Homo sapiens: one gene and its partners. The protein of the gene in region 1 purifies or fractionates together with the protein of each later gene. This does not show direct contact. Each region holds a gene or a part of one and is shown in the gene's direction. Other genes may lie near its edges. The genes, in order: IFT52, IFT172 and TTC21A.

Region 1 (3,649 bases):
AGCTAAATGTGAAACATGAACCACTCCAGCTCATCCAGCCTCAGTTTGAGACGCCGCTGCCAACCCTTCAGCCTGCGGTGAGTAGGTGTGCTTGGGAGATCCCACTGCAGAGCCCCACTGTTGCCCTTATCTTGTCAGCAGGCATTCGCTGTGGTCCCTTCCATGTGCCATTTGTGGCACTCCTTGTGGAGTCATAGTGCTCTGTCTCTAAACATGCATGGACACCAAATTTGTTAATGTTCTATAGAGACTTCCATGTGGTATGCTTCCAAATTGAGGAATCAAGGATGTGGAGCCTTCTGGCTATTAAACATTTCCTATTCTCATCTTGTGGGGTTGGAGGGCATATATGAGATTTCTTGGATAAAAAGGAAGAAAACTTTGTACTGCCATTCCAGGTGTCAGGGCCTGATTCATAACATAATTCTCACAGCCCAGGGGATAGTTATGGTCATGTGTGTAAATAGGTTATTTTTCAACATTTCAGTCCAACATTCAACTTGCCTTTAAAATTACCTTGTCTCACCACATTCTGAAATGTTATGAGCCAGTTAGCTTGATCTTGCTTGGTAGCTTGAAATTGGCCATGGTGAGAGGATTTACATTACAGAAAATGGTAAATGCTACAAAACAGGCCTTCAGTTTTGTTTTGTTTTGAAAGTAGTTAAACATTTACCCGCATACCATTGGTTCATACCTACAAAATGTGACTCCAGGTTCAATACTTTCTACACTAATCTGCATCTGGTTCTCCAAATAACTTCCATCCCTAAAAACTTATGATTAAATGAGAAACAAGTTGTACAATCAAATGTTCAACACAAACCTAAGCCCCAAGCTTTGTGTCATCGTTCTGAGTTAATTAGCATTGGTATGTCAGCTTGGTCAGTTTAGTGGTAATTAGAGCTGGTTCTACTTGGTTGTTTACAGTGGGCTAATAATCTTTCTTGGTATGGGTCTAATGGGTGAGGGTAGACGAGGTGATGGGAGTTTGGGTATTTCATCCTCAGGGAAGAGCCGAGTTACTGTTCTGTAGGGGTTTCCATGTGGTGTGGTTCCCAACTGAGGAATTAAGGATGTGAACTTCCTTATTCTCCTTGTGTCTTATCACTGTTAGTTATGATTTTGGACAAGCTCTTTCTTGAGAGACTTTATTTCCTTTACCTTATCCTCCCTCATTTCTAAATAATGACTTTATTTCCTTTTAGGTTTTTCCTCCCAGTTTCCGGGAGTTACCACCTCCTCCTCTGGAGCTATTTGATTTAGATGAAACGTTCTCCTCTGAGAAGGCACGGCTGGCTCAGATTACCAATAAGTGTAAGTTTGGCGAACTTTTTTTTTTTGAGACAGAGTTTCACTCTTGTTGCCCAGGCTGGAGTGCAATGGTGCGATCTCGGCTCACTGCAACCTCTGTCTCCCAGGTTCAAGCGATTCTCCTGTCTCAGCCTCCCGAGTAGCTGGGATTACAGGCATGCGCCACCACGCCCAGCTAATTTTTGTATTTTTAGTAGAGACGGGGTTTCATCATATTGGTCAGGCTGGTCTCAAACTCCTGACCTCAGGCGATCAGCCCGCCTCGGCCTCCCAGAGTGCTGGGATTACAGGCGTGAGCCACCATGCCTGGCCTAAGTTTGGCCAACTTTTAAACTTTGTTTTCTCTTATGAGTTTTATTTAATCATGAATTTCTGAGAATTGCTATGAGAGACTGCTTAGAGTTTGTTTAGGGAAAACAAAATATGAATAGGAGTATAAACTTACCATTCTTATTTATGTCATGTAAATAATGTTGGTTGTTCTTCTCGAGGCTATTTAGTTCAGTGAATTAGAACATAGTGCCAAGCAGAAAGCCAAAGGTCTCAGCTTTGATCCCTGTGAGTCCTTAGTTCTGACCTATTGAGAGACCATAGAATTAATCTTGACCCTGGCTGCCACTTAGCAAATCTCAGTCAGTGGTCATAGGAGCAGCTAAATAAGGAAATTGAGTAAGGCCCAAAGAATGATAGAGACTTCAAATTGGACAGGATCTGAGAGAGAGCCAAGTGTGCCCACCTTGACATGTGGATGAAGAAATGAGGCCCCAGGCCACACAGCTCCACGGTGAGTGGTCCTCCTGACTTTTGGTCTGGGGCTGCTCCTGACATGAATTGCCTCCAACACAGCAAATGGGTCTGCACATATATGCTCAGAGGCATAAAATTAACCATCCACTTTGAGGCAGTGACCCCACTCCTGGAACTCTAATCTAAGGAGATTATATTTTTTTTTTTTTTGAGACAAAGTTTCACTCTTGTCGCCCAGCCTTGGGTGCAATAGTGCTATCTCAGCTCGAGGTAACCTCCGCCTCCTGAGTTCAAGCGATTCTCCTGCCTCAGCCTCCCAAGTAGCTGGGATTACAGTTGCCCACCGCCACGCATGGCTAATTTTTGTGTTTTTAGTAGAGATGGGGTTTTACCATGTTGGCCAAGCTGGTCTAAAACTCCAGACCTCAGGTGATCCACCCGCCTCAGCCTCCCAAAGTGCTGGGATTACAGGCATGAGCCACCACGTCCGGCCAACTTCTACACTATTTATTTTTAAAATACAATAAACTCGGGAGGCTGAGGTAGGAGGATCGCTTGAACTTAGGAATTTAAGACCAGTCTGGGCAACATAGCAAGACCCTGTCTCTAAAAATATATTTTAAAAAAATAACAATTTTTAAAAATAGAAAAAAACTATAAATTTGGGAATAGCTTTAATGTCCACTAGCAGAGTAATGGTCTTAAAATGCGTCACATTCATTTGGTAGGAGAATATGTAGTCATTATAAAAGAGGTTCACAAAGGCTAGGGAATGACACATATGACACAGACAGAATTTAAGAGAGAATCCTGAATGAAGAAAGCAAGATATAAAACTGCATGTACAAGAGGATACCAGCTATGTCAGTAACATCTGTATGTGCCCAAAGCCCAGAAAGAAGTAAGCAAAATGGAAACAGTTCAGTGTAAACGAAGACCTTTACTGCATCTCTCTTCTGTGGCAGGCATTGCTGTGGGTCCTGGGCAGTCAAAAATGAGCAGGACATAGTGATGAGTCCAGGAGGAATCACAGAACGGTGAAGAAGCAGCTTTGACTTGGCATTTCTGTTTCTAGCAACTGTCCTATGGAAATCCTTGTAGAAATGCAAGACAAAAAAGATATAGATATTAATTATAGCATTCAAAAAATTGGAAACAGTCTAATGGTCCATCCATCATTAGGGGGATTGGTTAAAAAGAGTATGAAATAAGCCTGGGTCACATAGACCCCATCTCTACAAAAAAAAAAAAAAAAATTGCCTGAGCACGGTGGATCATGCCTATAATCTGAACACTTCAAAAAGCCAAGGCAGGAGGATCAGTTGAGGCTGGGATTTCAAGACCAGCTTGGACAACATAATGAGACCTTGTCTCAAAAAAACAAAAAAAAAGGCTGGGTGCAGTGGCTCACGCCTGTAATCCCGGCACATTGGGAGGCCAAGGTGGGCAGATCACCTGAGGTTGGGAGTTCAAGACCAGCCTGACCAACATGGAGAAACCCCTTCTCTACTAAAAATACAAAATTAGCTGGGTGTGGTGGCGCATGCCTGTAATCCCAGCTACTGGGGAGGCTGAGGCAGGAGAATCG
Region 2 (3,649 bases), on another chromosome or scaffold:
AATTAGAAACCAGACGATGACTTTGGAGCACAGCCTAATAAGGACCTGCCGTTTGCCTCTCTTTCTGGCATTGTTGATGCTCTTGAGCACATCAGCCAGGACATTCATGCGCACTATTGCGGCGGTGCAGAAAGATAGCCAAAAGAGCAAAGTGTTCTCAAGCTACTGTTATCAGTGCCAATCATGGAGTCCGATGCTGAGGGTGGTCTTGCTCATTTTTTGGAGAGACTCTGTTTCTGCTAATGTAGCTGGGGCTCAGGAAGAGATGGAGAGCACCAGGAGCCCTCCTAGCCCTGTCAGTGTAGGGCTGCGAGGCTCACTCCTCCCTTCCCCTTCGCAGGCCCAAACTAATTCCTCAGGAGCAGCTGGCCTCAGGGAAGGCATAGGCTTTTCCAGACGTCTCTTGATCCACGCTGACAGTGACATGGTCTTCACAGGGCTGCCTGCCCGTCTTCCTTTTTATCTCTCCACGCTTTTCTGTCACTTCATATTTGTTATCCTTAAATCTGTCACTTTTTCTCCCCTCAACTCTGTCCTTTCTCTGTTTTGTCTTGTTCCTTTTATGAAGGGAAGCATGAAGCAAGAAAACTTTATCTGCACTTTCTGTTTCAGCTCCTTTGAATTTGCGTTTGAACTCTCTCGGCTGGCCCTCAAGCACAAAACCCCCGAGGTTCATCTCAAATATGCTATGTTCCTGGAGGATGAGGTATGGGTGTGATTTGGACCCCGACCGCAGAGCCCTCTTATTCCATCCCCTAGTGCACTGCTGCTGGGTGTGCAGACCCCCAGTCTCATGCCTGCCTGTGATGCCAGTCTCCTTCTCATCATGCACGGCTGCCTTTCTCTCCCTGTAGGGTAAATTCGAAGAGGCTGAAGCTGAATTCATCAGAGCTGGTAAACCCAAGGAGGCAGTCCTCATGTGAGTTACCCCATACATTCCTTAATACTGTTTCCCCAGTCACCGTCCCAGGATCTTTCATGATTATCTTGACCTTCATTCAAACCTAGAACAAATCAGTGTTACACCCCTCAGTGACATGGCTGTTTGTCTCCCACTATTGGGGCCTCAGTCCTATACTCAGTCTCTCCTCTGTCCCCACCTGGAGGCAGGTTTGTCCATAACCAGGATTGGGAGGCAGCTCAGCGTGTGGCTGAGGCTCACGACCCTGACAGTGTCGCCGAGGTGCTTGTGGGACAGGCCCGGGGGGCCTTGGAGGAGAAGGACTTTCAGAAAGCAGAAGGGCTGCTGCTCCGGGCCCAGAGACCAGGCCTGGCCCTCAATTATTATAAGGTGGGGCACTGGATGCAGGGCCATGAGGGGAGGGGGAGAGTTTGTAAGAGCCCACAGAGAGCCACACTGACCCCTGGTATGAAGAAAGATCAGGGAGGTTAGTATTGGGGAGTGGGGAAGACAGGAAAGAGGAGGAGAAGAGAGGTCCAAGGACCCAGGAGTCTGTGGGCCAGAGTACCTGTGTGGCAGTGGGAAGCTGTCAGGCCTGCCTCTGCCCTCTTGATACCTGGAAATCTGAGCAGGAGGCTGGATTATGGAGTGACGCTCTGCGCATCTGCAAGGACTATGTGCCCAGCCAGCTGGAGGCTCTGCAGGAAGAATATGAGCGGGAAGCTACTAAGAAGGGGGCCAGGTATGAGGCCAGAGGTCCAGGCAGCATTGGCAGGGCTGGGAGGGTCATGAGGCATACACAGGATAGAGCATGCTGCCCCCCTACCATGCCAAGTCCCAGCGCTCTCATCTCCACAGGGGTGTGGAGGGATTTGTGGAACAAGCTCGACACTGGGAGCAGGCTGGAGAGTACAGCCGTGCCGTGGACTGCTACCTCAAAGTGCGAGACTCTGGAAACAGCGGCCTGGCGGAGAAGTGCTGGATGAAGGTGAGGACAGCAGGCCCTTTCTGGCCCTCCTTCTCCCTAGGCCTCTATTCACACTTGGCTCTGCTTCTCACATCTTCAGCTCTTTCCTCTTGTGTCTTTTTCTTTTCAATCAGGTAGCAGGAATCTATGGAGTGCCTGCTGGATGATAGAGCCAGAACCTCTGAAGGCTATAAAAGTGGATATAAGACAGAGCCCTGACAGCCAAAAGTTAGGGGAATTAGACCAATAAATGGCTCAATTACTATCATATCTGAGTAAAGACTAAAGTGCATGATTTAAAGTAGAGTTCAGAGAACAGTGAGATCTCTGTGGGCTAGAGGGGTCAGGAAGGCTCTGTGAAGAAGGAGGGAAGACTTGGACAGGAGCTGGAAGGGCAACTCCAGGCACAGGAACTGGCCAGACAGGGAACATGAAAAAAGCATGGGCTCCACCTCCCCCACCCAACATTTCCTGAAAAGAAGCTTCCAGCAAATTAAGCCAGGCCAGTATGTGTCACAAATAATAAGACATACTGTATTGGAGAAACCAACAGGATATATACAGTCATATGCCATATAACAACGTTTTGGTCAACAGTAGACCACATGGGTGGGCATGGTGGCTCACGCCTATAATTCTAGCACTTTGGGAAGCTGAGGTGGGTGGATCCCTTGAGGTGATCCCACGCCTGGCCTTAAATAGGTTTCAATACACAAATGCTTACCATTGTGTTATGGTTGCCTATAGGTAGTCAGTACAGAAATGTGCTGTACAGGTTTGTGGCCTAGGAGCAATAAGCTCTACGCAACCTCTACCTAGGTGTATAGTAGACTATACCATCTAGGTTTGTGCTATGATGCTTACATAATGATGAAATCCCCTAAGGACACATTTCTCAGAACATACTGATCATTAGACAATGCATGACTGTAGGTATATGTGTGTACATGTATATAAAGAGATTTATTAAAAGGAATTGGCTCATGCAGTTATGGAGATAGACAAGGCCCAAGATCTGCAGGTGAGCTGGCAAACTGAAAACCCAGGAGAACTGATGGTGTAGTTCTTGTTTGAAGGCCAGCAAGCTTGAGACCCAAGAAGAGCTGATGTTTCAGTTCAAATCTGAAGGCAGGAAAAAGCCAGTGTCCCAGTTTAAAGGCAGTCAAACAGGAAGAATTCTCTCTAACTTGGGAAGGAGCCAGCCTTTATGTTCTGTTCATGCCTTGAAATGATTGGATGAGGTCTATCCACAGTAGAGAGGGCAATTTGCTTTACTCAGTCTACCAATTTAAATGTTAACCTCATCCAAAAACACTTATAGAAACACCCAGAATAATGTTTGACCAAATACCCGGATACCCTGTAGCCCAAATTGATACATAAAGTTAACAATAACATATATATATATATATATACACACACACATACATATATATAATTATATTTTAATATATTTAAAATTGGGATGCAGGTATAGTTTAAATGACGCACCTTAGATACAGTGAAATGTGAGTGGGGGTCATGAGGGGGGTGAGATTGGCCCTCTAAATGACATATTCGTATGGTGATGCCCCTGCAAAATTTCCCTTAGGTTTTGAGGTTTTTTTGTTTGTTTGTTTATTTTGTTTGTTTGTTTTTTGAGACGGAGTCTTGCTCTGTCGCCCAGGCTGGAGTGCAGTGGTGCAATCTCGGCTCACTGCAAGCTCCGCCTCCTGGGTTTAGGCCATTCTCCTGCCACAGCCTCCTGAGTAGCTGGGACTACAGGTGCCCACCATCATGCC
Region 3 (3,649 bases), on another chromosome or scaffold:
CTGCCACTGTTGGGAAATCTGGAGCTTTGTGTGTTTTCTGATAGTTGATGGCTGACCTGATGTTTAGAAAACAGAAACATGAAGCGGCCATCAATCTTTACCACCAAGTCTTGGAGAAAGCGCCAGGTAATTCTGCCCATGGAGACTGCCTGTACCAGTTCCCACTGAGCAAGGGCCGCTCTCCCAGAGAAGGGTGGGACCTCTCCCTCCTTCCTGACTGGGCAGAGGAAGCCCCTTCCTCCCTGATTGTTCCAGAGAAGCAGGAAACTGATAAAGACCCAGTGGAACGTGCCGGCCCTTCCCGAGTCCAAGGGGCCAGTTCCTGGTCTCAAGGACTTGGCACTGGACCCAGGACAGCATGTCTGTCCCCAAATCACAGCCAATGGGGCTTGACACAGTCCCCTTTTGAGGTCACAGCCACTTGTAGGGACTAGAAATTCTCCCCCGTTGTATAGCTTCATTCCCATTCACTGCAGCGTAAAACCACCCCTTATTGCTGGGGAAAGGGGCCAGACCTGAGGCTCAGGTTGGAGCCCTGGCAGGCCCATGGCAGTGTGCCCATAGGCCCAGGAGGTCACCACGGTTAGGAGTATGGGTGCTGGGGCCAGGCTGCCTGGGTCTGAGTCCTGGTCTACCACTTACTGGTTGTGCAACTTTCAGCAAATTATTTCTCCATGTCTCAGTGTCCTCATCTGTAAAACAGACACAATAAGAGTACCTACCTAGGCCGGGCATGGTGGCTCACACCTGTAATCCTAGCACTTTGGGAACCCGAGGCGGGCAGATCACAAGGTCAGGGGATCGAAACCATCCTGGCTACACGGTGAAACCCTGTCTCTACTAAAAATACAAAAAAATTGGCCGGGCGTGGTGGCGGGTGCCTGTAGTCCCAGCTACTCGGGGGTGGGCTGAGGCAGGAAAATGGCATGAACCCAGGAGGCAGAGCTTGCAGTGAGCCGAGATCACGCCACTGCACTCCAGCCTGGGTGACAGGGCGAGACTCCGTCTCAAAAAAAAAAAAAAAGATTAGGTACCTACCTAATCTTGCAGTTAATATATAGGTAAAGCACTTAATACCAGGTACAATATAAGTGCTATATAAGTGTTAGCTGCTATTCTTTACTATTTTTAAGCATTAGTATTATTCTTTACTCAACCCTGGAGACCAGTGGAGACTCTGGAGCTGTTGGAATGTCCCTGCTCAGCCCAGATGGGCAGTATCTCTTGGCTTCTCCTAGGGCCCCAGCACCCTCATCTGATAACAGCTACTGGGCATTTCAGCCTGGAGATTTCTGTCTCTTATTTTAGACAATTTTTTGGTATTGCATAAATTAATCGATCTGCTAAGAAGAAGTGGAAAACTTGAAGACATTCCTGCCTTCTTTGAATTGGCCAAGAAGGTGTCTAGCCGGGTGCCTTTGGAACCAGGGTTCAATTACTGCAGAGGTATCTACTGCTGGTGAGTTGGGTGTGGTGTGTTGAGGGGCAGCTGTGTGCAGGAAGCCCTACTGGCAGATAGGCTAGGCCCTTGCTCTGCACAAAAGGAGCAGAAATTCTGCCTCCAGGACACCCGGACCCAGCAAGTGAGGGCCCATGGGGGCAGGGGTGGAACCCTGTGGAAGTCAGGGAGAGCCTGCAGCCTCTGGATGGAGGCCAGGTGAGGGCCACTTGGGCAGGCCACCAGCCTGCATCCAACACACAGGTCCGACGCCCGCATCTCCTCCAGGGGAGCTGGGAAACCAGAGATCCAGCCTCTGCTTTGTGCAGACTCACAAAGTGGTCCTTGTATATCCCTGCCCTGTCTGGGCCTCAGTTTCCCTCACTGATTCTTGGTGTTTTCTCCACCACAGGCACATAGGGCAGCCCAACGAAGCCTTAAAGTTCCTGAACAAGGCACGCAAGGACAGCACTTGGGGCCAGAGCGCCATCTACCACATGGTGCAGATCTGTCTGAATCCAGACAACGAGGTTGTGGGCGGAGAGGCTTTTGAGAACCAGGGAGCTGAGAGCAAGTAAGGGCCCATGGAGGCAGGGGCGGAACCCTGGGGAAGTTACAGAAAGCCTGCAACCTCTGGGTTGAAGCCAGGTGAGGGCCACACGGGCAGGCCACCGGCCTGTGTCTGATACCCAGGTCTAACACCTGCAGCTACATGGAGAAGAAGGAGTTGGAGCAGCAGGGTGTGAGCACCGCCGAGAAACTGCTGCGTGAGTTTTACCCACATTCAGACTCCAGCCAGACCCAGCTGCGGCTGCTGCAGGGCCTCTGCCGGCTGGCCACCAGGGAGAAGGCTAACATGGAGGCTGCGCTGGGCAGCTTCATCCAGATAGCGCAGGCTGAGGTGTGGCTGGTGGGGACTGGCGGGCATGGGCAGGTGGCAGGGCCGAGAAGACCAGGCGGCCAACACGTGCTGACGTCCACTTCCTACCTGGTGTGTAGAAGGACAGCGTCCCTGCCCTGCTGGCCTTGGCACAAGCCTACGTGTTCCTGAAGCAGATCCCCAAGGCGCGTATGCAGTTGAAGCGCCTGGCCAAGACCCCCTGGGTGCTGAGTGAGGCTGAGGACCTGGAGAAGAGCTGGCTCCTGCTGGCTGACATTTACTGCCAGGGCAGCAAGTTCGACCTCGCCTTAGAACTGCTGCGGCGCTGTGTGCAATACAACAAGGCAAGGAGCCACACACACACTAGGGCTGCGGGATGGCGGAAAGGATTCTAGGCATTCCAGGAAGGTGAAGCAGGCTTTGCAGGTAGAGGCCATATGGAATAAGAACTAGTCGGGAAGAGGCAGGCTGAGAGGGGCACATGGGCGACAGACCAGAATAGGAATGAGGATCAAGGGCGATGGACCAGGTGAGAGGAGGTGCACAGGGGTCGTGTTATGTCCAGAGGAGGGAACACTAAAGGACAGAAAGAGATGGGAAAGCTTCATGGGTTCCAAGCTGGAGGGACTTTTGCAGGTCAGAGCAGGCCAGGAATGGGAGTGGCGGAACAGGAGGGCTACAGGGAAAGGGGTTACGCCAGTGTCTGGGGTAGCTGAGAGGAGGGCACACAGTTGGCTTCTTGCAAAGGTTGGGGTACCCCTGGGGTCCCTTGGCAGTTTGGTTTATGGCAGCTCACTTCTGTCCCTTGCCTGCTTCTGGTTCTGGTCCCAGTCCCACCCTGGCCCAGGGAACCAGTTGGGGCTTCCGCTCTGCAGAGGCTCTAACTGGCTTTCCCTGCAGTCCTGCTACAAGGCCTATGAGTACATGGGCTTCATCATGGAGAAGGAGCAGTCCTACAAGGATGCAGTCACCAACTACAAACTGGCCTGGAAGTACAGTCATCACGCCAACCCTGCCATTGGTAAGGCAACCAGCCAGGGTGCACGTGAATGGACGTGGGAGGGAGGTGGGCAGGAGGGCCCCCACCATGACCCCAGAACTCAAGGCCTGTACCCTGGCTGTTATGAGAACCAGAGGGGTTCTCAGGTCACCAGGGTGCCACCATCTTTGCTCTCCATGTCCCCGGTAGGCTTCAAACTTGCTTTCAACTACCTGAAGGACAAGAAATTTGTGGAGGCCATTGAAATCTGCAACGATGTAAGCCAGCAGCCTTGGTGGGGAGGGCCTGGTGTAGTGGTGGGGAAACCTGCATGATACTGCACACCCATTCT

The links.
Region 2: the proteins of IFT52 (region 1) and IFT172 purify together in Homo sapiens (affinity purification with mass spectrometry; one large-scale study listed by BioGRID and IntAct). This does not show direct contact.
Region 3: the proteins of IFT52 (region 1) and TTC21A purify together in Homo sapiens (co-immunoprecipitation; one study listed by IntAct). This does not show direct contact.

What each region holds. Positions count from the first base shown.
Region 1 is NC_000020.11:43,635,937-43,639,585, forward strand, and holds part of IFT52 (intraflagellar transport protein 52 homolog), read left to right. Parts: coding exon 1-77; intron 78-1,208; coding exon 1,209-1,317; intron 1,318-3,649. UniProt on the Homo sapiens protein: Involved in ciliogenesis as part of a complex involved in intraflagellar transport (IFT), the bi-directional movement of particles required for the assembly, maintenance and functioning of primary cilia. Required for the anterograde transport of IFT88.
Region 2 is NC_000002.12:27,451,624-27,455,272, reverse strand, and holds part of IFT172 (intraflagellar transport protein 172 homolog), read left to right. Parts: intron 1-612; coding exon 613-706; intron 707-854; coding exon 855-919; intron 920-1,110; coding exon 1,111-1,291; intron 1,292-1,533; coding exon 1,534-1,643; intron 1,644-1,759; coding exon 1,760-1,889; intron 1,890-2,002; coding exon of another isoform or gene 2,003-2,035; exon of another isoform or gene 2,036-2,136; intron 2,137-3,649. UniProt on the Homo sapiens protein: Required for the maintenance and formation of cilia. Plays an indirect role in hedgehog (Hh) signaling, cilia being required for all activity of the hedgehog pathway.
Region 3 is NC_000003.12:39,135,049-39,138,697, forward strand, and holds part of TTC21A (tetratricopeptide repeat protein 21A), read left to right. Parts: intron 1-44; coding exon 45-126; intron 127-1,281; coding exon of another isoform or gene 1,282-1,308; coding exon 1,309-1,459; intron 1,460-1,850; coding exon 1,851-2,012; intron 2,013-2,131; coding exon of another isoform or gene 2,132-2,146; coding exon 2,147-2,339; intron 2,340-2,437; coding exon 2,438-2,662; intron 2,663-3,157; exon of another isoform or gene 3,158-3,218; coding exon 3,219-3,339; intron 3,340-3,507; coding exon 3,508-3,575; coding exon of another isoform or gene 3,576-3,632; exon of another isoform or gene 3,633-3,649. UniProt on the Homo sapiens protein: Intraflagellar transport (IFT)-associated protein required for spermatogenesis. Required for sperm flagellar formation and intraflagellar transport.